4 linked regions of the Homo sapiens genome follow. The protein of the gene in region 1 interacts with the protein of each later gene in a biochemical or structural test. Each region holds a gene or a part of one and is shown in the gene's direction. Other genes may lie near its edges. The genes, in order: UBE2F, NAE1, DCUN1D5 and RC3H1.

Region 1 (3,306 bases):
TTGCGGGGTAAAGGCCCATGTGGGAGGCTCCAAACGCCATCCTGTAGACAAATAGGGCGGTTGGCAGGGCAGAGGCACCTGGGTAGACTCAGAGCACTCCACTTTCTCACCCTGAGACCAGAGCAAGTCATGGGACCGTATCCATAGCTTCAAATTGGGAACTTGCCCGCCCTGGAAAGGGTCGCTGTGCTAACTAAAAGTGTGGCAGGAGGGCAGGCACCTGGTGCCCAGCTGGCCAGGACCATGCTCCAGGCAGGATCTCCCTGCAAGAGGGCATCGCGGCAGCAGCGAGGTATACATCGAGTGCCAGGTTATACCCTGCACATTGCCAGGTGTCGGGATTATGCAGTGGAATCAGCAAACAGGTTAGACTGAGGCTTAGACAGGAGGACTGAGGCTTAGCTAAGGAAATGGAGCTCATGCCCACTAAGAACTATGGTAACTGTGCTGTGTTCCCTGGGCAGTGGGGGCTGCATGGCATTGATGGGACCGAAGCAGTGTGATCCTGCAGGGACATCTGAGACCCAGCAGCTGTGTTGTAGGAGTGAGAGGGTTAAGAGCTCCAAGTCATTCTTACGGCTCATACAGTCCCATGGGATTTTACTCCTAACCTTGGGGAGACCAGATCCAGGGACAAACCTGACAGTGGCCCAGATCCGAGAAGATTGTTCCACCCATACTGGCCTGGGGTGATTCCTAGGTCCACACCGCCTTTGGTCACTGTCCACCTTCATTTCAATGCATGAGGATGGAGCTCTGTGGCACACCCAGCTCTCTTCTGGGCAGGGTGGTCATCCTGCCCAGAAGAGATGGGGGCCTGTACATGGGCTGTGAAGAGCAGGCACATTTTAAGTAGGTAGCAGCATCCAGGGAAATCATTCTAGGAAGACAAATCCAGAAACAAGGGTCTTCCTGAGAGCAGCAGCTGTGGCTCACATCCATTGTGGCCAAAGGAGTCTTGGCTTTGTGACCTCGACCACACTTTTCTGGGCTCCACTTTCCCCATCTGGAAAATGAGAAGGGATAGGTACCCCCTTAGGGTCCCTTCCACTCAGGCCTTCCACGTGCTCCCCCCTCAACATACCCAGCACTGTGTCTTGCGTGCAGTAGGCACCCAGGTCGTGGCGAAATGGCACTCAGACTCCGCAAGGTCCCAGTCCTTCTACCACCTTGGCGACCACAGGGGACCTTGGTGCTGGTGGATCTGACTTGTCCCTGAAGCGCTGCTTCACTCACTCACTCACTCCTCCTGTTCTTCTTTCTGTCCCCAATGCTGTTACTCCACAGGAGGACTTCCGGAATAAAGTGGATGACTACATCAAACGTTATGCCAGATGATAAAAGGGGACGATTGCAGGCCCATGGACTGTGTTACAGTTTGTCTCTAACATGAAACAGCAAGAGGTAGCCCCCTCTCCCGTCCTCATGCTCCCTCTCAGTCCCCTGGATTGCCCCAGTCCTGTGACCATGTTGCCCTGAAGAAGACCATCTTCATGACTGCTCATTGTAGATGGAGAATTCAACATAAATACAGCAAGAAAATGTGTTTGGGCTTCTGAAGAGTTGTCTGCTTACCTTAACATGTTTACTTTTTTGAACTTGTACTGTATAGGCTGTTGGTGAAATTCTTAAGAAGTTGTAATGAACTCAAAATTGAGGCCAGAGCTTGCTTTCCCTTTTCCCAAACAAAATTGGTTTTCTGCACAAGCGATGCTAATGATGTGTTCAGTGTAACTCGCAGATTGGCAATAAGATACCCGCTACAAACTGTGATTGGATGCAAAATCTCTTAGCTTCTTTCACGAATGTTGGCCCTGCCTAGATGTTGTGAAGCCTCCCAGAATGCATAGAGTCATTCACTGTAGATCTCTTATTGAAATGCGTATTTTATTTAATGTAAGTATATTTTGGAACAGATTTGTAATTTGTACAATTCAATGCTTTAATTATTTTTTCTATTCTCATTTAGTTTGTATTTTCATTGTATAGAGCAGACAGAAAGATGTTGGGTCAAGCAACTATTGAAGAGAAATACAAAGAAAATATGAAAGGCACATTATTCATTTTGTCCAAATGCAATGAGAATCTCACTCTTAAAAATCAGCTCTTGCTTTCGGGTCCGGATGTGGTGAGCACATTTTGGAGCCCTTTGAAGCTAGATTTGGATGATCAAAACAAAAAGGCAGGGAGCCCATTCTAACATGCTGCCCAGAGGAAACTGGCTGGAGCCTGGACCAGCTGGGGTTGATGCTTTTGCAGTGGTCATGTGATTGTGACCTGGTAGCTACTTATCAGAGAGCCAGACCCTGCTGTCCTGGGAGACAGGAGCGATGCCTCAGGAATCAGCCCAATGTCTGATGTCACTGAGACTGTACCTGTGGCCTTCTTCTGAGTTTGCTATGGCTCCAGGCCCTGCCGGTGGGGTGAGCCTCCTAGGCCTTGGAGGACCAGGAGTCAACAGTGGCATATGCCATCCTCGGCCAGGTTAATATACTGCAGAGGAAAAGCCCTGAAGAGAGGCAAGTGGATTTACTCCAGCATGTAGACATTTGAACCAGTGAAATCAAACACAAAATAAATGTCTGTCTAGTTTCATTTGCTGCCTGCCTAACACTCTCAAACTTAACTGCCAGCTTCCTTAGACCTCTGGATTCCCCCATCTGCCATCTACTGGGTTTAGTTTGTTTTTCTTAATTTATAGAATCTCTGATTGTGAGATCAGTCTGTCACGGAGACCCAGCAGGTGAGGAATGTAGGCCTTGCTTCCTCTTTGCACCCATTAGACTTGAGGGTGGCCCCTGGCTAACAGGCCACACAGAGCAGGAAGGGTGAGATTGGTTAAAGAGAATGATGGCATCTCAGGAGCTCAGGGCTTGTCCAGGAGACACATTAATCCCCACCTCTCAGGGCCTGGGAGAGGGAGGTACTGCAGCTTCACACTTTTCCTCTGCCTAGTGTCAGAGGAACTTGCCAGCTGAGCACTAGGCTTCCTCTCTAGGCAGGGCAGGAGGCCAGCAGCTAATTCCTGCCCCCTCTGACCCAGGAAATGAGGTTCTCTGCTTGGTGCCAGTCCCAGGCCCAAGTCAGGGCACATCCCATAGTAGTTGTTCGGGCTCCCTGGAGTTCCCCAGCTGGTGGTGCAGGTGTTGATGCAGGACTTTTCAGAAGAGCGCTTCTGTGGGAGAAACGCCTGCTGTCCAGTGGAAACGTTTATGCAGTGTACATGAAAGACAGTGTGCCCTCTGGACCACACTGAAAGTGGTAATATCAGTTATTCTGACATCAAAGTATCTGCACAGTAGAAAA
Region 2 (7,519 bases), on another chromosome or scaffold:
CACGACCACGCCAGGCAAATTTTTATATTTTTAATAGAGACAAGGTTTCACCATATTGGCCAGGCTGGTCTTGAACTCCTGACCTCATGATCTGCTCACCTCGGCCTCCCAAAGTGCTTGGATTATAGGTGTGAGCCACAGCACCCGGCCACATTCTTTAGTTTTTGTAGAGACGGGGTCTTGTTATGTTGCCCAGGCTGGTCTCTAACTCCTGGCCTCAAGTGATCCTCCTGCCTTGGCCTCCCAAAATACTGCAGGTGTGGGACTACAGGTGTGATTACAGGTGTGAGCCACCGCACCAGACTGGGGTATTTGTTTCTAACCCCTGCACCACCTCTTAATCTTTGTTACTTCACTCTTCTCCCCAAACATCTGCCCTCTGTCTGTAAAACGGGGTTAGCAGCAATATCTGTTGCATTGGGTGGTTGTGAGCTCACGAGGTGATGCATGTCAGGGGCCTGCCTGGCATCATAGTAAGTGCTCAGAAAGCCAGGGTAGGATCAAGCATGTATCAGAATCACCTGGATGATTTGTTAAAACAGTTTCCTGGGCCTCACTCTACAGTTTCTGATTCAGCAAGTATGGATAAGGTCCAAGAATTTGTGTTTCTTTTTTTTTCAGAGACAAGGTTTCGCCATGTCACCCAGCCTGGTTTCGAGCTCCTGGGCTCAAGCAATCCTCCTGCCTTAGCCTCCTAAGTGTTGGGATTACCGGAGTGAACCACCTTACCTGGCTTTCTTTTTTTTTTTTTAATACTTAATTTTTTTTAAGAGAGGAATGTCTCACTCTGTTGCCCAGGTTGGAGTGCAGTGGCGAGATCATAGCTCACTGCAACCACAAACTCCTGGGCTCAAGTGATCCTCCCACCTTAGCCTTCCAGGTAGCTAGTACTACAGGCATACACCACCATGCCTGGCTAATTTTTAATTTTTTTTTTTCTTTTTGTAGAGACAGGGTCTTGCTATGTTGCTCAGGCTAGTCTCAAACTCCTGGCCTCAAGGAATCCTCCTGCCTTGGCCTCCCAAAGTGCTGGAATTACAGTCATGAACCACTGTACCCAGCCAAGAATTTGCCTTTCTTTTTTTTTTTTTTTTTTTTTTTGAGACGGAGTCTCACTCTGTCGCCCAGGCTGGAGTGCAGTGGCGGGATCTCGGCTCACTGCAAGCTCCACCTTCCTGGTTCACGCCATTCTCCTGCCTCAGCCTCCCGAGTAGCTGGGACTAGAGGCGACCACCACTGCGCCCAGCTAATTTTTTGTATTTTTAGTAGAGACGGGGTTTCACCGTGGTCTCGATCTCCTGACCTCATGATCCACCCGCCTCTGCCTCCCAAAGTGCTGGGATTACAGGCGTAAGCCACCGCGCCTGGCCGAATTTGCCTTTCTAACAAGTTTCCAAAGTGATGTTGATGCCGCTGGTCCAGGACCACACTTTGAAAACCAATAGCTTAAATGAATTACACCATGGCTTCCTGGTCTGATATATCTGGTTTCCACCCTCCACAACAGGGAGAACTCACCAGTGGGCCCTGAATTCTTTCATGTCAGGGCCGTCAAAAGAACTGTGTCTGATCAGCCTCCTCTGCTCCAGCATAGGCACCTTTACATGGTTTTACGGGTTGAATTATTATTATTATTTTCACTTTCATCTCTACAGAAAATAATCTAAAAATTAGCCAGGTGTGGTGGTGGGTGCCTGTAGTCTCAGCTGCTCAGGAGGCTGAAGTGGGAGGATTGCTTGAACCTAGGAGGTTGTGGCTACAGTGAGCCATGATTATACCACTGCACTCCAGCTCAGGTGAAAGAATGAGATCCTGTCCCCCACTGCTGCCAAAAAATAGTAACCAGACTCCAAAAGCATAGGCAACAAAAGCAAAAATAGACAAATGGGTTTATACCAAATTAAAAAGCTTCTGCACAGCAAAGGAAATGACAGAATAAAGAGACAACCCACAGATTGAGAAAAAAATATTTACAAAATATACATTAGATCAGGGACTAATATCCAAAATGTACAAACTCAGACCGCTCAATAACAATAAAACAAATAACCCTATTAAAAATGGGCAGGGCCAGGTGCAGTGGCTCATGCCTGTAGTCCCAGTACTTTGAGGGGCTGAGGCAGGAGGACTGCTTCAACCCAGGAGTTTGAGACAAGTCTGGGCAATATAGTGTGACCCCACCTCTAAAAAAATAATGATAATATTAATACAAAGCTTCTGGGCTGAATTATGTCCTCCTCAGAAGTTACTGAAGTCCTAACCTGCCAGTACCCGTGAAGGTGATCTTATTTGGAAACAGGGTCTCTGCAAGTGTAAACCAGTTAAGATGAAGTCATCAGTGTGAGCCCTGATCCAATGTGACTTGTGTCCTTAAGAGAGGAAACACAGAGACATGAGGGGAGAATGCCATGTGATGATGGAGGCAGAGACTGAAGTGCTGTGGCTGCTAGCCAAAGATTGCCAGCAAACCCCCAGAAGCCAAGAAGAAGCGGACGGATTCTCCCCTACAGGTTTCAGAAGGAGCATAGTCCCACCCGTGCTTTGATTGTAGACTTCCAGCCTCCAGAACTGTGAGACAATAAATTTCTCTTGTTTTAAGTCACCCAGTTTGTGGTTCTTTGTTACGACATTCCTAGGAAACTGATACCCTGAGGTATCATTTTACAGACAACACCAACACAAACCTTTTCAAAATCATTTACTTCTTCACGGGCAATATGACTAGCCTTCTACCAAATTTGTGGGTGTTTCCTTTCATGAAGTCCATAGGTATGAGAAACTAAGCAGTGAACTCTCATCTGCTGCCTTTTGACCTTCCTACTTTCCCGGAGTGTATTTTATTATCCCTTATATTTTACCTGTCCACTTGGAGAAGGAAATGTGACAGCACAAACACATGATGAGCTGGGAAAGCCTCACACCTCTGTTTCCCATCAGTGTGTTCCATGGGAGCTGGGTAAGGGCAAGGGAAGGTATGGGAAGGTGTACTCTCACCCTAGTCCAGGAGACCATGCCCAGGGCAAAGTGCAATTCATCATCACTGCATCATTACCATCAAACTGTGCCATCTCTCTGGTCCCCATCCTAGGGGATTGGGGGTGGGGATCTGTGTTCATTTTCACCTTATTTCAGGCAGTTATTAACCTGAAGGTGCCTGTAGGGTCTGCGAGATAGCAGGGAAGGAGTCTTCGTCTCCCTCACAGATGGTCACCTTGTCTTCAGCACCACCACCCCCCTCCCAATTGTTCTCATGGGGTAACCTCCTTCCTTGGCCTCCCATCCCCACAGGACAGCCGTTCTCTTCCTGAAAGGAGGGTCTTTTCAGGAAGTGGAGGACTTTAAATTCCTCCTTGGATCTATGTTCACAGTCTTCAGAACCCAGCCTGTCCCAACTGTCTCTCAAACCTTCTCAACCACTCCCTATCCTTCACCTGACCAAACTTACTCTAGCACCTACAGCTTGCTATGCCTTCTTTGCTTCCTAGAGATGGCACCTGCTGTTCCTTATGCTTAAAACACCCTTCCAGCTGGGCACAGTGGATCATGCCTATAATCTCAGCACATTGGGAGGCCAAGGCGGGCAGATCGCTTGAGCCCAGGAGTTTGAGACCAGCCTGGGCCATGACGAAACCCCATCTCTACAAAAAATGTACAAAAATTAGCCAGGTGTGGTGGTGCATGCCTGTAGTCCCAGCTACTTGGGAGGCTGAGGTGAGAGGATTGCTGCCTGGGAGGTTGAAGCTGCAGTGAATTGAGATCACACCACCGAACTCCAGTCTGAGCAATAGAGAGAGACCCTGTCTCAAACAAAACAAAACAAAACAAAACAAAACACTCCTCCATCTCCAAACCACATGAAACATTCTTGGAGAGGGGGACTGGGGAGGTTCTTCTGTGCACCCCTGAGCACCCTGCTTCCCTCTATCTAGAGGAAGGCCACATTGTCTGGTAAGTGCTTGTTTGCTGTCCCTCTTCCTTCATGAGACTAAACTCTCCAAGAACAGAGCCCTGGACTTGTCTGCATCTGCAGCAGGGAGCCCCTAGCTTTGTGATTCAAAATAGGCTTGTGGGCTTTTCATGAGAGGAAGAAATGGGTGAAAAATAATGATCATCAAAATGAAAGTTATTATTCATGCAAGATTTGGGGGGAGTCTGGCCTCCTGTATTCAAAATCTCATTTAAGGTCAAAAGACACTTGGGACCCATTTATCCCCACTGCACAGGTGAGCACACTGAGGATTTGAGAGGTAAAGAGTAGATCTCACAGCCAGTTAAGTGGTCGAAATACAAGTATGCCTGATTCCAATGCCCCAGTCGCCCCCAATTACTGCATGGACAGAGGGCAAATTGGCAGGCTAGCGGGTCTGCCTTTCTGGCCGATGGGGACCAAGAGCCCCAGACCCGCTCGGGTACCAGGGCCGCTTAGGCCCCGGCGTACCGGCGACGCGTGCGCAGTGCAGTGCGGCGCCCCCTGCAGGCAGCGCGCAGGAGACGGTAGCGGCGAAGGGGCGCTCAGTGCGCCTGCGCGCTTGTGGAGCTGGTGGCGGCGCTCCGCAGGGGCTCGGCTGTTTTCCGCGCGGCAGGCGCGGCCATGGCGCAGCTGGGAAAGCTGCTCAAGGAGCAGAAGTACGACCGGCAGCTGAGGTGAGCCGAGGCTCACCGAGCCGAGGGCGGGCCGGCGGGCTTTCCAGCATTCGGGCCGGGCCTAAGGGCGCGGGCGGCGCGGTCGGGCCTTCCTCAGGCCTTCTTCCAGGCTGGGCCGGGCCGTGCGGGGCGCGGGAAGCCGGCGCTCGGAGCTCCCGCCCTGGGCCAAAGGTGCTCCGCGAGGGCTGGGACCCCTTCCCCCGCCACGCGGTGTGCAGTTCGGGGGACGGGGTCCCCAGCGCCAGCCGGGTAGCTAAGGCGGCTGCCGGCCCCGTTGCGCCCAGGCTCCTCGTTTTCCGAATGGGGAGGCCCGGGGCGCACCGCATCCCGGCCGCGAGGGCGGCACAGAGGGTTAGGTTTTGTTCTCAGCCAGCGCTGTCCAATGGAAATAAAATGCTAGTCTCATGTGAGCCGCAAATGTAATTATAAATTTTCTAGTAACCACACTAAAGGTAAAATGAAACAGATGAAATTGATTTTTAAATACAATTTAACCCAATATGTCCAAAACATTACTATTTCAACACAATATAAAAAGTTCTTGAGATATTTTACTTAAATTTTTATTTTTATTTTTATTTTTGTTTTTGTAGAAACGAGGTTTTTGCCACCTTTCCCCAAGCTGGTCATGAGTATTTTCCTTTTTAAAACTGTCTTGGAGGACCGGCACGGTGGCTCACGCCTGTAATCCCAGCACTTTGGGAGGCCGAAGCGGGCGGATCACCTGAGGTCAGGAGTTCGAGACCAGCCTGGGCAACATGGTGAAACCCTGTTTCTATTTAAAAATTCAGAAATTAGCTGGGCGTGGTGGTGCGCGCCTGTAATCCCAGTTACTCTGGAGGCTGAGGCTGGAGAATCGGTTGAATCCAGGAGGTGTAGGTTTCAGGGAGCCGAGATCGTGCCACTGCACTCCAGCCTGGGTGACAGAGCGAGACTCCGTCAAAAAAGCCCCCCCAAAACTATCGTATAAATATTGTATTTTACACTTACCAGCACATCTCAGTTAACACTAGCCTCATTGCTTGTGCTCAGTAGTACATGTGGCTAGCAGCTACCTTAATGGACAGTGCAGGCCTAAGCCATCAGGAGGGTCCTTGGGTACTTCCCCACCCTTGCCTTTTCTCCTTGCACTACCCATTCCTTATTTATTGAGCGTCTTCTGTGTCTTGAGGCTGTGGAGATAACAAAGCTGCTCAGCTTTCCTCCTTCCTGGAGCCTCTGAGACAACAGAAGTTATATGTCCCCAAGGACTGGAGCTTCTGTTTGCGCCACCAGCCTAGTGCTGTAGTAGAGGCTTTAGGCACTTAGTTCTGAGAGTACCCTTGAAAGCAACCATTTCCTGTGCTTTACAGTTGGAGAAACAGAGTCTTGGAGAAGTTAGGTAATTTGCCCAGAGTTCCCCATATCTTTGAGCCAGGATGTAAACTAAGGCTCTTCTGGCTTTTTCGGAGGTACTCAGTTACATCCTGCTTCCAAGCTTTTCGGAGAAGAAACAGGGTAACAGTCCTTATAACCAACTTAGGTTTTCTTGTAAATTCTTGGAGTTCTTGTGTTTCTAATGCAGGTATAACTGTACATGACAGAGCTGAGAAGATAGTTGAGGTTACTAAGCAACTCTAACAAAAGAGGGTTTTTGCTGAGGGCATTCCATTTAAGTCCCAAACTTTACTTTCATAGTGAGAACTGGTTTTGAAGTGTCAAAGGGAAGCAGTTAGAAGCAAAATGCAGCAGTCAATAAGCCCCTCCTTACTTCACGTTAGTTGGGCCAGCAAGATAGTAGAGAGGACTGATTCATTTGGCCTATTCTTGAAACATGTTACTTAGAGACACACCAGGATTCTTTTTTTTTTTTTTTTCAGGGACAAGGTCTCACTTTGTGACCCAGGCTAGAGTGCAGTGGCTAGAGTGCAGTGGCAAGAACACTGCTCACTGCAGCCTCAACTTCCTGGGCTCTAACGATCCTCCTGCCTCAGCCTCTTGAGTAGCTGGGACTACAGGCATGTGCCACCATGCTTAGCTAACTGTTTTAGAGATGGGGGTTTGCCCAGGCTGGTCTCGTACCTCTGCACTCAAGTGATCCTCCTGCCTCAGCCTCCCAAAGTGCTAGGATTACAGGCATGAGCCACAGTGCCTGGCCTCAGTATTCTTTTTGTTTTATTTTTGAGGTGGGTCTCAGTATGTTACCCAGGCTGGAGTGCAGTGGCTGTTCGCAGGTATGATTATTGGCACACCACAGCCTTGATCTCCTGGGCTGGAGTGATCCTCCTGCCTCAGTCTCCCAAGCAGCTGGGACTACAGGCACACACACTATCTCACCCTGCTTGAGATGCACCAGTATTTTTTTTTTTTTTTTTTTGAGACGGAGTCTCACTGTGTTGCGCAGGCTGGAGTGCAGTGGCGCGGTCTTGGCTCACTGCAATCTCCGCCTCCTGCGTTCATGCGATTCTCATGCCTCAGCCTCCCTAGTAGCTGGGATTATAGGTGCGTGCCACTGTGCCTGGTTAATTTTTGTATTTTTAGTAGAGACGGGGTTTCACTATGTTGGCCAGCCTGGTCTCAAACTCCTGACCTCAGGTGATCTGCCTGCCTCCGCCTCCCAAAGTGCTGGGATTACAGGCGTGAGCCACTGCGCCCAGCCAAGATGCACCAGTATTCTTAAATTTACTCTCCAACTATCTAAGCATCCATCAACCATATATGTCAGGTGTCTTCTACGTGCCATACTTTGATGGAGAAAACAGGCGTTTACGGTCCATCTGGTTCTTCTAGGCGATTCCTCCATACATTTGACAGCTGTCTGGGCCCTTATGGAGCATACAGTGGAGTGGAAAGATGGATGCTCAGCAAACAAAAACAAATGAAGCCAGGTACAGTG
Region 3 (7,037 bases), on another chromosome or scaffold:
GTAAGATTGGTCAAGAAAAACAACAAAAAAGGGATGAAGATAATGCTAATGCAAATTAGAAAATGTTATAAATTTTAATCATATTTAAATAAACTTATATGTAAAATAATCAGTTATGAGAAAAGTATGGGACCAAAACATTCAAAAAGAAATAGAAAATCTGAATGGCCCTATGGCCATTAAAAATGTTGGTTTATTAGTTAAAAGTTTTCCTTCCCTCAATACTCACCTGAGTTTGGACAGATGCTAATTCCAGGGTTACATAAGCTTTTTCAAAAAACGGGGGGGAAAAGTAGCAATTCTCTTTTCATTTTCTGAGTCTTATGTACTACAATCTTGTTAAAAAAACTAGCAAGGAGAGTAAGAATGAAACTTAAAAGCTAGTCTCACTTAGGAACCTAGCAAAACAACCCCAAAATCCAGCAATGTATAAAACAGATAACATGACCAAATTTGACTTATTCTAGAAATGCAAGGTTTAATTAATATTAGAAAATTGTCCAAAATATTTACACATTAATGAAATTATGTTACTACACATTATAGGCCTTTGCATTATTGATTTAGTATAGTCTTAGTTAAATCTGAGAATGCCAGGTGGCTGGAGAGCATGTTGAATAACTAAAATTCAGTTTTGAGTGGAATACTGTGGACCACAGTAGATGGCACAATTAATTTGATTAAAGGGAGTCAGATGGTCTCTCAGAGGTGGCAAAATGTGAGTTAGGTCTTGATGAATAATATTTTTATCAGCATGTTTGAGATTTCAAGTGGAAATAATGGGTGCTGAAGTATGGCAGTGGCATTTGGGAATGGTAAGTGATATAATTAGAGCATGGTAAGGTTATCAGGAAGTGGCAGGAGATGAAACTAGAGATTTGTGCCAAATTGTGAAAGGCCTTGACTGCCTTGCTTCTTGCTAAACAGTGGAATTTATCAACCCACTGAGACAAAGTCAGTTAAGATTTTTGAGCCTTCCATATATTTAGCTGCTTATATTTAATGTCTTGTCTTTAAAAATAACACGTATGACTTGTTGTTTGCATGCTTTTGCATATATAACTTATTTGAAGTTAGGTGCTTCTACTGATTGACTTTGACTTTTTGTTCACAAAAATATAGGGATCTTGATTTATGACTGGACCACTTAATGTATTAATTTGCACTGTGTTATATCCTAAACTTTTAAAACTACTCATGACTAATGTCTTTCACCAAACTGTTACCTACGAACTTTCTAAAGAAATGTGTGACAAAGGCGTGATTAGTTTCATTTGCTCTGCCATTTTTAGCTGTATATGTGATAAAACATGTTTTAATACATCTCTTTTTAACTTCGATTTTATTTGGAATTTTTGAATGAGCTGTTTGTTTGTTTTTAAGCAAAGTAATTGGAGTGAACTTTCTTTGATTCCCAGGTTTTCTTTTTTCCCCTTTTTTCTTTTTTTATTGCATTGGTAGATGCAGGGCAAGAAATTTATTACTCTAAATTTGTGACTCAGAATTTTAAAACTAAATTAACTTCATAAATGCGCTCACTTTTTTCTTAATGCATTACGTCTAACCCCCAGTGATACTTTTATTTGATTTTCTTGATTATGTAATTTGTTTGATATTTCTTTTATTTAAGGTGTGACTGCACAGAAAAGTTACAAAACAAATTTGACTTTTTGCGCTCACAGTTGAATGATATTTCGTCATTTAAGAATATCTACAGATATGCCTTTGATTTTGCAAGGGTAGGTGCAATTTTCTTGTTTTGTTGTTTTAATAGCTTTTCATCTTGAGACCACACTTAGGAAAACTTTTTCACTTATATTTTAGGATAAAGATCAGAGAAGCCTTGATATTGATACTGCTAAATCTATGTTAGCTCTTCTGCTTGGGAGGACATGGCCACTGTTTTCAGTATTTTACCAGTACCTGGAGGTACGTATGTTTTTTCGAATTTTGAAAATATTATTTTAAAACTTAATCTGAAAGTTATACTTTTGAGGAACAAGTAGATTTTTAATAGTATGCTTTAAAAAAACTTTAGAGAAAAAATTCTAAAATATGTACATATCAGTTGCTATTTTTAGATAGAAGTTCATGTTTATTAATATATTTTGTACCTAAGATATTTTCAATCCTACCCCCCCAGTCCCCCAAATAAAAGAAACCTCCAAGAAATACATTGTATCACAGACATTTGTCTTGCAGAATTAGTTTCTCGGGGTTTTCATAAGAGAGTTAATGCTAGTACACAAACCTTTAAGCTTCTAAATCTGATTTTCTTCTTTTGTTACACAGGGTCTTAAGCTGAAATGTACATAAGAGAACCAATTTAGTAATAAAACTTTCCTTTTCTACTTAGGCTCAATCTAAAGAAACAGAATAAAGCTATTAATATTTTATGGCCACAAATATGAGAATGGCTATAATAGTATACTTAAATATGCTGGTTACTAAAAAAATGTAAGCTGAAATGATGACGTGTTCTTTTAGAAGGTTTATCATAGCAACTACTATAGGCAGTGATTCTAAGAAGATGCTATTCTTTTTTTCCATTGCTTTGTCTAGTTTTTTTTTTTTAAATCTGTTTTTGTGCCTTTGTAATTCTAGGGTTATTGGTATAGTTCTCACCATATCTTGAATACAGATGCTTTTTCCTTTGGAAATAATTTCTCATAAAGCACATTGCTTATAGCTGCTTCCCTTTTCCCAGAGTAGTAAAAGTTGTGATACAAGACAGTGATATCAGCTGGGCGTGGTGGCACACGCCTGTAATCCCAGCACGTTGGGAGGCCAAGGCAGGCAGATCACTTGAGGCCAGGAGTTCGAGACCAGCCTGGCCAACATGGTGAATCCCCGTCTCTACTAAAAATACACACAAAAAATTAGCTGGGTGTGGTGGTTTGTGCCTGTAGTCCCAGCTACTCGGGAGGCTGAGGCACGAGAATTGCTTGAACCAGGGAGGTGGAGGTTGCAGTAAGCTGAGATTGCACCACTACACTCCAGCCTGGGTGACAGAACGAGACTCTGTCTCAGAAAAAAAAAAAAAGAGACAATGATATGAAAAGGTCTTACATGAATGAGTTTTACGCATGATTCAATCTGTAAGTCCTATAAATTATTTTTGATGGATGGTATCTATTTTCTTCCTATTAGTAGTTTTGGGCAAAAATAAATTTAACTGAATGTAAAAATATTCAGCTCTATGGGGAGCTGAGAAGAACTAAATATTTTCAGACACTTGTTATGTGCAGGTTGTTTGGCATATATTTTTAAAAATCTTTATAATACCATTTTGAATTAAATTCTATCCCCATTTAACAAATGAGGAGGTGGTTTCTATTCTTAAGTAACTTTCCCAAAATCACTCAATTAAGTGGCAAGGGTGGGATTTAAATCGAAGCCTATACTCTTTCACTTGTTTCCAAAGATGCCAAACTCAAAATGTGGCTAAACAGTAAATCTTGAGCAAAGAAATGATTTACTAGGAAGCAGCACAATAGAACATACTGGATGTAGGAAATGTTATATATCTTGATCTCATTGGTGGTAACACAAGTATATACATATGAAAAAGTTAGTTTTATCCTTACTGTTAGTACTCAGTGCTCTTATTATTCCTCAAAAATGAAAAAAAAAGTAAAAAATAGATTATGTTAATATGTAAATGCCCATGAGGAATCTCTTAGAAACACAAATAATTAAAAAAATAGTAAATGTTTTAGAAAAAACCAAATCACAAAAACAGTTAAAACTTAGTTTACTAAATTGAGTAAATGATGTTTGTTTAAATATTTAAATACAAATATTTAAATCATTTTTGCAGCAATCAAAGTATCGTGTTATGAACAAAGATCAATGGTACAATGTATTAGAATTCAGCAGAACAGTCCATGCTGATCTTAGTAACTATGATGAAGATGGTGCTTGTAAGTATAACATAACATGTTCCTTTGAAAACAAAATTTCCAAAAATATTAAATGAGAGTATGCATTTGTGTAGTATTAGCATAGAGGTTTTAAACTTTGTAATAGTAACTTATTTAATTGTGTGAGGGATTGTGGGAGAAGTAGAGAGAGAGCTTAGATTCAGCAGTATTATATAAAATCTATGCTGGTAAATGAAATGTTTTCAGTTCCTCGGCAACCAAACATTTTAGCTAAATTTAAATTATAATTTTTGCATCCAGAAGCTAAAATTCAGCTTTGTTTCTGTCTTTCCTGGCATTTGCCTATGGAAGAAAAGTACAGTCATGATTTTAAAAATATAACAGCAAAACAATCAGCCACAATAGAAAAAGCTTTAACATTATTGTAATATTATGCTACCCATTAACAATATGGCAAATAATGTCAGTATAACTTCTCTCTGAAAACTATAAATTGATTGTGAGCTAACTGATAGTGAAATAGTTATAATTTTTCAATCCGTCAAGTTAAAATATCTGTCCATACTCCTCCATGGAAAGGCTAGAATGCCATAAAACAGGATTTTGAAATAATGATAAATTAATTAGATAAACCAAGTTAATTCTGTAGAACTATAAATTTTTTTCAGTTCCAACCACCATTTTGGTTGGTTGCATGTGTTTTCAGTGTTCAGAAGGGTTACAAGGAAAGGTACATTCCTATAAACTTAAACTGAAATTATACACTTTTTTCTGTGACACTGAAAAAATAAAATAACAGAAGAAGGGATAACTTTATTTCTTCCCACATATATTTTGTCCTCTCTCTACAAGATGGTATAAAATTTAGTATTATTTTAAAGAAATAATACCTAGCAGCAGTAACCTGGCAGCCCAAAGGCTGTATATGGCCCGTAGATGTGTATATTTATGTATTTTGTATCAGCATTTAAAACTAGGAGATTTTGTATTAAAATACAACATTTAGATTTGTTGGAAAAATTTAAAAAGTCTGACAAAACTGTACCTTTATAGTACTCCTTTATAGGAGTCAGAGGCTGGAGTCAAGTGTTAACTGTGTTGGACTTGCTTTTCAGTTTGACAGTTCATGGTATGCCAACACCTAGGCTGTTTTTCAGTTGCCATTTATTATCATATGTGCTCTGCTGCTTTTCTTACGATAGAGAAACATGTCTGTCAAAAGCAATGGAAAAAGACCACCAGAGGATTATGTGTTTTAAGAAGAATAAAGCAAGCATATTTCTTTGTGGCGGTGATTTTTTTCCTACATTTAAACAAAATAAACACTGAGCTCATTTAAACTGCCTACTTGGCTCTGTCAGCAAATGAGTTTGGACCTCCCCTACGTTATAAAAATATATGTTTTAGAATAGTACTTAGCTCATTAATTAGATATTCATTAGGCACTTGCTTTGTGTTCAGCTTTGTACTACATCCTGTTATTGGAATAAAGTAAGTCTCTATTATGGCTGATCCCTCTCAACAAGCTTGTACACTTCTTGGGGAGGCAACATAGAAATATTACCTTCAACACTTTTCAGATTGTTTCATAATTAAATGCCAGAATGCTATGGACACTTAGAAAAAGGGAGAGATTTGTATTGACTCAGTTACTGGAGGGTTCATGAAACACCTTGAGAAGGAAGTTGCTATAGATACCATTGTTCCTTGTGTCTTTAAGGGCAAAAAAGAAAAGGCTAATAAGAAAGCACCATTAAATGGAATAAGGTGTCTAGAAGCAGAACACCCAAAGAAAGGAAGGGTCATTCCTCTGTCATTGCAGAGCTCGTGGGGAGTTTGTTTTATAATTGGAGAGATGAGTTCACTGAATTCTGACAAAAATGGTTTCTTTTTTTCTAGGGCCTGTTCTTCTTGATGAATTTGTTGAGTGGCAAAAAGTCCGTCAGACATCATAGCAAGAACTATGTGAAGAAAATGCAAACCTTTCAATTCCCACGTGTATACAAGCTAATGTGATGAGGGGGAAAAAAATCCAACGGGTGCATTTTCATTCATATGAAAGACTTCTCATAGTACTTTTTTTTCCTTTTTTTAAAGGAGGTTTTTCTTGTTACATGTGATGGGCATTGAGCCACACCTCTTCTTAGACTGAATATTGAAGTTTTTGTTTTGAGTTATGTTTATAACATTTATTTCAGAACAATAAAGATTCAGATTTGTGACAAAGGCCTTAAAGTGAAGATGTCCCTTGAGTGTCAGAGTGGTATTTATTTTTGTAAATTTGAATTTTTTGATTTTTGAGGTTCCAATTCACCGTGAATTTACAGAATTTTCAAGATTTTAAACAGTCTTAATATTTGGCAACATAGTCTGCTGATGGTATGGCTCATTATAGTCATCTCTGCACAATTTGGAAGACTGTTGGCCTTGACTTCTGGGATAATGATTTGCTGATGCAGCTAATAAACATTTCTAGGTATTGGAAAAATGCTCCTACTTTTAGCTCTGGGTTTCTATAAAAGCTGCCAAGGTCTTATGCAGATGTCTTATCTCAGAGAGCTTAGAATTGGAAAGATTATGTCCAGTTGTTTTGTTTTCTAAAAAAGTTGTATTATTAAGTTGTATCATCATTATTATTGTTGATAATAGCATATTTATATTTTTAACTGTCATTATATAGGGAATTTTGTTTAAAGCACTTTTTTTTTTTTTTTTTGCCTTAAGAGAACGTTAGCTGTGATATGGATTTAATTAAGATACACATAGGAAAAGAAGACAATAGAATAAGGAATCATGAGAGAACTCTGGGTATAATTAATTGTGCACAACTCAATAGAGCCATTTACGTTGGTAGTATTGCAGCTTGCTAATTATCACAATTTTCTGCCTGTTGGTAATCAAGTGTCTTGAGGAAAGGGAAGGCTTTCCTAATTCATGTAAAAGGCACTTTTGTACTAGCAGCAGGCCTGTTTGTACATTCCTTTTCAAACCATCCAGTATCCCAGTGATATGAAAACTTTGTTCATATTCATAGCCCAGTCACAACTTCAGAAACATTTCTAGTGTCATTGTTTGAGTAGAGAGAAGTAAAGAGGTTATTTTTCCATAATAAGGGAGTGTTTCTATTAGGATTTAAGGTAAAGGTTGATTTTT
Region 4 (7,037 bases), on another chromosome or scaffold:
CTACCACATGTGTCACAGTTAAACTTTGAAGCATCTTCTGTGTTGACAGATTCCTTTTTTTGCCTGTGAACTTACCCTATTATCATTATTTGTATCCTGTCAGATATCTACTTGTAAGACCAAGAAAGTATTTGTTCATGTGAATCACAAAAGAAACACTTAAATTTTTGTTTTTAGCATATCTGAATGCTATAAAATATAAAAACTCATACTGTTTACATAGGACAGATTTATCATACTGCTGTAATTGTTTTCATGGTTAATTTGTTACATAGGCAATTACTAAATTGTGCCTTTGAAATACTTTATAAATTTTTTTAAATAATTAAAGATATTCAATGATGTTAAAGTTGGGTCAGCTAATATTTGAAGTTCTTAATTTATAATTTTTTTTCTTTAAGCCATAGATAATTTAGAATTCTGCAGTATTTTTCATCTCCAGATCTTAGGGCTTGAAATGGATTCTGATGGGTCTAATCAGTCCACTCTTGCATATATCTTGAAAATGGTCAGCATCCAACAAAGTGAAGAATAAACTGATAAATGATCCCTGTTTGGTGAACACCTCAGATCAGGATGTTCCTTGGCAGGGTATTCTGACCTGGTTTAGCTTTGGCCCCGTCTGTGCTCAGGGTTCAGGTATTCTGCAGGATTGGGTTCAGAGGGATTAAAATTCTCAGATTGGCCTGTATCAAAACAGTCACAGATTTTGGTCAGCCTTTTCCCAGAACCGTCTCCAAGATTTTTTCTTTTGTGTAATTCTGGAATCTAGGCTGGATTTGGACTAGCTTTAGAGGTTATGATAAAAGATTAATTTTGTCAGGCATTTATACAAAGGAGGTTTTCTTACTACAGAGTTTCTTAAGGTAGATTCCTTCTATTTTTGAAGTGTGACATTTACCAATCTGAAGTAATGTTGCCCTACATCCCCCAGACACTTAACTTTAGCATATTTATTTCTGTCCATTTTTGGTCAGGATTGTGCCTGTTTACTTATATAATATTCTTGTTTACTTTTTGTTTATTAGATACTTCTTATTAGTTTATATTGTTTTCCTGATTGAGGCTTGGGGAAAGAATTTTCCTCAAATTTAAAGTCACCTTACTTATTTGCAGATGTATGTCAGAGCAATATTCTTTTGACAGTTATCAAGCATTTTAGCAATGCTGTATGTATATATTATGAATGAATGACAGAGTCACTCATGGTCTGTCACCCAGGCTGGAGTGCAGTGGCATTATCATAGCTCACTTCAGCCTCAAACTCCTTGGTTTAAGTGTTATTCCCGCCTTACCTGGCTACTTTTTTTAATTTTTATTATTTTTATAGAGATAGCATTTTGCTGTGTTGCCCAGGGTGGTCTCAAACTCCTGGGAGCAAGGTGATCCTCCCACTTCTGCCTCCCAAAGTGCTGAGATTACAGGCATAACAATGTTTTAAACTGACACTGGTATACCTTCACTGATTATTACTGTGCACATGTGGTAATAATTTAACTTATAAGTGCATTTTATCTAAAAAATTTCCAAGATCTAAATAGCATTTGAACATGGTAGCAGTTTTTTTTTTTTTTTTTTTTTTTTTTTGAGCAAGAAAAGAGTTCTAAAGGGGTCAGTTTTATCTACAGATTAACATAATTTTTTTTATTGAGGTTAAGTCACATAACATTAACCATTTTAAAGTAAACAGTTTAGGTGGCACTTTATACATTCACAATGTTGTTCAACCACCAGCTCTAATTCCAGAATGTGTTCATTACCCCAAAAGGAAACACTGTACCCATTAAGCAGTTACTCTGTATTCCCCTCTTCCCTAATCCCTAGCAAACGCCATTCTGCTTTCTGTCTCTAATTTGAGCCAACATCGAGGAAGAGTACTCTGTACAATTGAAATTGCAGAAAAAACTTTGGGATGTGATTGTTAGGAATAAAAAACCACCTAATTCTTTGCATGCTTCTCTAAGTACAGTAGACATGCTGCCAGGGACTCTTTATGGAAGAAAAGTTGAGACTCATAGAAGTTTGCAGTTTTGTTTTGATCACCCCAGAGGGTTTTGCTCAAACTCTTAGACTCATTTGTATTTCTTCATTGGGTTATAAGAACTAAAATTTAATGTTCTATACAAATGTGAACAACTAATACTTGGTCTCCTATCTAGAACTTGTTTGCCTTTTAGGTTTTCTTAATGTATAGAAGAAACTAGGAATATTCACAAAGGATTTATTTGAAGTTACACTGGGAAACGATTTTTAGAATTTGAAGCTCTTTGATCCCTGTGAATCTAACTTTATGACTATTTTATTCAGCTAATCTTTGAGAATATTTAGAGTTTTGATTTGCGTGGCACTCTGCTTTTAATCCCTTGTTGAATAAGTGTTAGAAACCTTGATCTTGGCCCTATACCTGATCACCTCTAAAAACATGAACAGTGTTACAAAGGCAGTTGTTTAGTAAGCTTTTTTGGATTGTTTTAATTGGCTGACTGAGGGAGACAAAATTAGTTTTTTTTTTTCTTTCTAGAATAAAGGGTAATAAACTTGGACTTTAGAGTTACTGCTAAGATTGACATTTCCATTTGGGGCTTTAGAAATATATTGTTATCTTAAATTCAAAATGGTACTTTATCTAATTGAATTGAAATCTTAAAATTTATGAGAAACAAAAGTCACTTTATGTTCTTAGTAAATATTTCTAATGGGGTTATAGGAGATCTAAGTACAAAAAAAATTTAAAATTTTGTTATTAATCTCCCCTCCTTAAGGAAAATTTTATTAATATACATAATTATAATTTAGTTATAAGAACAACTTAAGTTGAGTACAGTGGCTCAAGCCTGTAATCCTAGCACTTTAGGAGGCCAAGGCAGGAGGATCTCATGAAGCCAGGAGTTCCAGACCAGCCTGGGCAATAGAGTGAAACCCCACCTCAAAAAAAAAAAAAAAAAAAAGGAAACTTAAAAAATGATAAGGAAAAGGATTATGTCAGAATATTTAGAACTCTGCAGTAAAATTTCTGGTTTTCTGTAATTTTTTTCAGGAAAATGTCAACTTTTTGTAAATACATGTTTCTGTGTTTTTATATATGCCTCATTAATTTTTTAGACTAACATTTAGTGGAAAGCTAATGTACTCAATTAATACATTTAAATTATAAAAATAACTTTTTTTTTGAGACGGAGTCTTGCTCTGTCACCCAGGCTGGAGTGCAATGGCATGATCTCGGCTCACTACAACCTCTGCCTCCTGGGTTCAAGCAATTCTTGTGTCTCAGCCTCCCAAGTAGCTGGGATCACAGACTCATGCCACCATGCCCGGCCAAATTTTGTATTTTCAGTAGAGATGGGATTTCACCACGTTAGCCAGGCTGGTCTTGAACTCCTGATCTCAGGTGATCTACCTGCCACGGCCTTCCAGAGTGCTGGGATTACAGACATGAGCCACTGCACCCGGCCGAACTTTTATCTTGAAGTAGATAGTGTCAACAAATACAAAAATAAAAATAATGTCTTTAAATGAGGTGATGTTTAGAGCTATATCCATGAAAAATATGGGATAGGCTAGGAGGCGGTGACTCATACCTATAATCCCACCACTTTGGGAGGCCGAGGTGGCAGGATCACTTGAGGCCAAGAGTTCCAGACCAGCCTGGCTAACATAGTGAGACCCCATCTGTATTAAAACATATATATATATATATAAAATATGAGGCCAGGTGCAGTGGCTCACGCCTGTAATCCCAGAACTTCGGGAGGCTGAGGCGGGTAGGTCACAAGGTCAGGAGTCGAAGACCAGCCTGGCCAAGATGGTGAAACCCCATCTCTACTAAAAATACAAAAAAATTAGCCGGGCATGGTGGCAGGCACCTGTAATCCCAGCAACTCAGGAGGCTGAGGCAGAGAATTGCTTGAACCCAGGAGGCGGAGGAGGTTGCAGTGAGCTGAAATCATGCCACTGCACTCCAGCCTGGGCGACAGAGCGAGACTTGTCTCAAAAAAAAAAAAAGTGTAGTGGAAAACTTTTGAATGAAACAGAATCACTAAATTCTTAGCTTTATTATAGAACAGTATTTAATTTGTCCAGGTCTCAGTTTAGATTAAGAAGTAGGCCAAAAAAAAAAAAAAGGCCTATAATTATCAGAAAAATTAATGAACTAAATCATCTGCACTAACATATTGGTTTAGAAGTTCTCTTGCTTTGTACATAATTCAAGGAATTTGATTATCTATTTTCTCGTCCCACAGCAGATTAAAAGGTGCAAATTAGATGTTGGAGTAGAGCCATATAGGTAGGATGGAGGGCCAGCTGGGTGGCAGGAAAAAAGTCACATTAGCCTGAGGCTGTTTAAAATAGGGACAGCAGTTACCTATACAACACCTCATTAGACTCTGAGTATATCATTAACTGTTATATTGTGCTATATATAAAGTATTGCTCCTGATGGAAAATTCATTGTGGGAAAATTATGTTTGTAATTTTGGGAATCATAAACATATATACAGTAGAGTGGTGTATATTAGAATATAGACCTCGCTAAAAAAAATAGAACATACACTTTGGAGTCCAGTATATCTAGGTTCTCATCTTCTATGACTTAAGCATTATAATTCCTCATCTCTAAAAACAGAAATGGTAATACTTTTATCTAAAGGTTGTTTGGAAATGTAAATAATAATATCTTTAGTATAGTACCTGACACCTTTAATGAATGTTATTTTCCTCCTTAAATTCTGTTTAACAAAAATTAGAAAGATATTCATCCAGAATATTTTTGATCAAGTTCTACTGTAAAATGTTAATATAGAAGCTACATATAAAACCTTATATAGTTTAGGGTTAACTGTATGTGTACTTTTGGGAGTGGTAGTCAGAAATGAAGTAATTCTTCATATGCCATTCTCATTTTCTTCCCACATCAGTCTATTTATATGGGCCTATGCTGTTCAATACTGGCCACTAACTATATGTGGCTATGTAAATTTGAGTTTTTTGAAAGATTTTTTTTTTTAGAACAGTTTTGGATTTACAGAAAAATTGCTCAAAAAAATACACAGTTCCCATTTATACTGTCCCCCACGGTTTCCTCTGTTAGTATCTTGCATTAGTGTGGTGTGTTGGTTATCACTGAGGAACCAGTGTTGATACATTATTAACTAAAGTCCATAGTTCACATTAGGATTCACCCTTTGTGTTGGACAGTTCTATGGGTTTTGCCAAATGCATAACATTATACATCCACTATTCTAGAATCGTGCAGAATGGTTTCATTGACCTAAAAATGTCCCATGTTCCACTTACTCATCTCTGCCTCATCCCTCTGAACCTCTGGCTACCACTGATCTTTTTACAGTCATAGTTTTACCTTTCCAGAATGTCATGTGGTTGGAATCATAGTATATAGTCCTTTCAGACTGGCATCTTCACTTAACAATATGCATTTAGGTCTCTTCGTCAGTATCTTCTTCTTTTGTTTTTGTTTAAAATAGAGATTGGTCTTGAACTCCTGGGCTCAGGCAGTGCTCCTGCCTTGGCCTCCCAAAAGTGCTGGGATTATAGGCGTGAGCCACTGTGCCTGGCCCTCTTCATGTCTTTTCATGGCTTCACAGTTTATTTATTTTACTGCTTAATAATATTCCATTGTGGCTGAGCATGGTGGCTCACGCCTGTAATCCCAGCACTTTGGGAGGCCAAGGATCACGAGGTCAGGCGATCAAGACCATACTGGCCAACATGGTGAAACCCTGTCTCTACTAAAAATACAAAAATTAGCCACACGTGGTGGTGTGAACCTATAGTCCCAGCTGCTTGGGAGGCTGAGGCAGGAGAATCGCTTGAACCCAGGCGGCGGAGGTTGCAGTGAGCTGAGATCGCGCCACTACACTCCAGCCTGGCGACAGAGTGAGACCGTGTCTCAAAAAATATATATATATAATAATAATAATATTCCATTGTATGGATACATTTAAATTTTATTTAAAATTTAATTCCTCCGTCTCACCAGCACATTTCAAGGGCTCAATAGCCACATGTACCTAGTGGCTACCATATTGGAAAGCACTGATATATATGATTCCCCCAAGGTTCAATTCTCCACTTCCATTCACTCTCATGGAGAACTTTCCTGTTTATATGATCTCAGTTTTTCCTCAAGCCTACATTTTCAATGCATTATCTATTTTGTTTTGTTGCTTGTACTATCAGCAACCCTCAATTGGTTATTTAAAATCCTTTACTCCCCCAAAGAACCATTATTTTCAAATGTTGTCCATTATAGTATGGTTTCCTAGGTTTTCCATCACAGCATCATCTCTTTTTAGTCTGCTCTTCTTTTTTTTAATTTTCTAAAATTTTATTTTGTTTTTGATCCTTCTTTTTTTAAAGAATTTATGTTGCAGCATTCTATAATAGTCTGATCCTTTTTGTCCTTAAACTCTGGAATCATCTTTTTGTTTTTTATTTTCCTCTAAACCTTTTGAATATTTAGCAGAGGTGTGCAGATCTCAGCACTAATAAATGGCAGAGTTGGTATTAGAATCTAGATCTCCTTATTCTAGTTCTTTCTTTTCTTTTCTTTTCTTTTTTTTTTTTTGAGACAGAGTCTCACTCTTGTCGCCCAGGCTGGAGTGCAGTCGCGTGATCTTGGCTCACTGCAAGCTCTGCCTCCTGGGTCCACGCCATTCTCCTGCCTCAGCCTCCCGAGTAGCTGGGACTACAGGCGCCCGCCACCACACCCGGCTAATTTTTTTGTAGTTTTAGTAGAGACAGTGTTTCATCATGTTAGCCAGGATGGTCTCGATCTCCTGACCTCATGATCCGCCTGCCCCGGCCTCCCAAAGTGCTGGGATTACAGGTGTGAGCCACTGTGCCCGGCTCTAGTTCTTTCTTGGGATCACCACTATTTGGGGCTACTTTTAGAAGTTATTTTGAAGAGGGTATTGGAGACTGATTATGTATTATGTGATTTAAAATATCTTTATAAGTTAAATCTATAGAAGCTATAGCTATAGATTTCATAAACATATTATTTATAATTCTTTAAA

Evidence for each region.
Region 2: of the proteins of UBE2F (region 1) and NAE1, one has a biochemical effect on the other in vitro, tested with the Homo sapiens proteins (one study listed by BioGRID).
Region 3: the proteins of UBE2F (region 1) and DCUN1D5 form a complex in vitro, tested with the Homo sapiens proteins (one study listed by BioGRID).
Region 4: the proteins of UBE2F (region 1) and RC3H1 form a complex in vitro, tested with the Homo sapiens proteins (one study listed by BioGRID).

Annotation. Positions count from the first base shown.
Region 1 is NC_000002.12:238,040,001-238,043,306, forward strand, and holds the end of UBE2F (NEDD8-conjugating enzyme UBE2F), read left to right. Parts: intron 1-1,287; coding exon 1,288-1,338; 3' UTR 1,339-2,782; downstream 2,783-3,306. UniProt on the Homo sapiens protein: Accepts the ubiquitin-like protein NEDD8 from the UBA3-NAE1 E1 complex and catalyzes its covalent attachment to other proteins. Together with the E3 ubiquitin ligase RNF7/RBX2, specifically neddylates cullin-5 (CUL5).
Region 2 is NC_000016.10:66,827,972-66,835,490, reverse strand, and holds the start of NAE1 (NEDD8-activating enzyme E1 regulatory subunit), read left to right. Parts: upstream 1-4,514; 5' UTR 4,515-4,591; coding exon 4,592-4,644; intron 4,645-7,413; exon of another isoform or gene 7,414-7,476; coding exon of another isoform or gene 7,477-7,511; intron 7,512-7,519. UniProt on the Homo sapiens protein: Regulatory subunit of the dimeric UBA3-NAE1 E1 enzyme. E1 activates NEDD8 by first adenylating its C-terminal glycine residue with ATP, thereafter linking this residue to the side chain of the catalytic cysteine, yielding a NEDD8-UBA3 thioester and free AMP.
Region 3 is NC_000011.10:103,061,161-103,068,197, reverse strand, and holds part of DCUN1D5 (DCN1-like protein 5), read left to right. Parts: intron 1-1,630; coding exon 1,631-1,739; intron 1,740-1,824; coding exon 1,825-1,929; intron 1,930-3,820; coding exon 3,821-3,923; intron 3,924-5,783; coding exon 5,784-5,839; 3' UTR 5,840-7,037. UniProt on the Homo sapiens protein: Contributes to the neddylation of all cullins by transferring NEDD8 from N-terminally acetylated NEDD8-conjugating E2s enzyme to different cullin C-terminal domain-RBX complexes which is necessary for the activation of cullin-RING E3 ubiquitin ligases (CRLs).
Region 4 is NC_000001.11:174,012,334-174,019,370, reverse strand, and holds part of RC3H1 (roquin-1), read left to right. Parts: intron 1-7,037. UniProt on the Homo sapiens protein: Post-transcriptional repressor of mRNAs containing a conserved stem loop motif, called constitutive decay element (CDE), which is often located in the 3'-UTR, as in HMGXB3, ICOS, IER3, NFKBID, NFKBIZ, PPP1R10, TNF, TNFRSF4 and in many more mRNAs.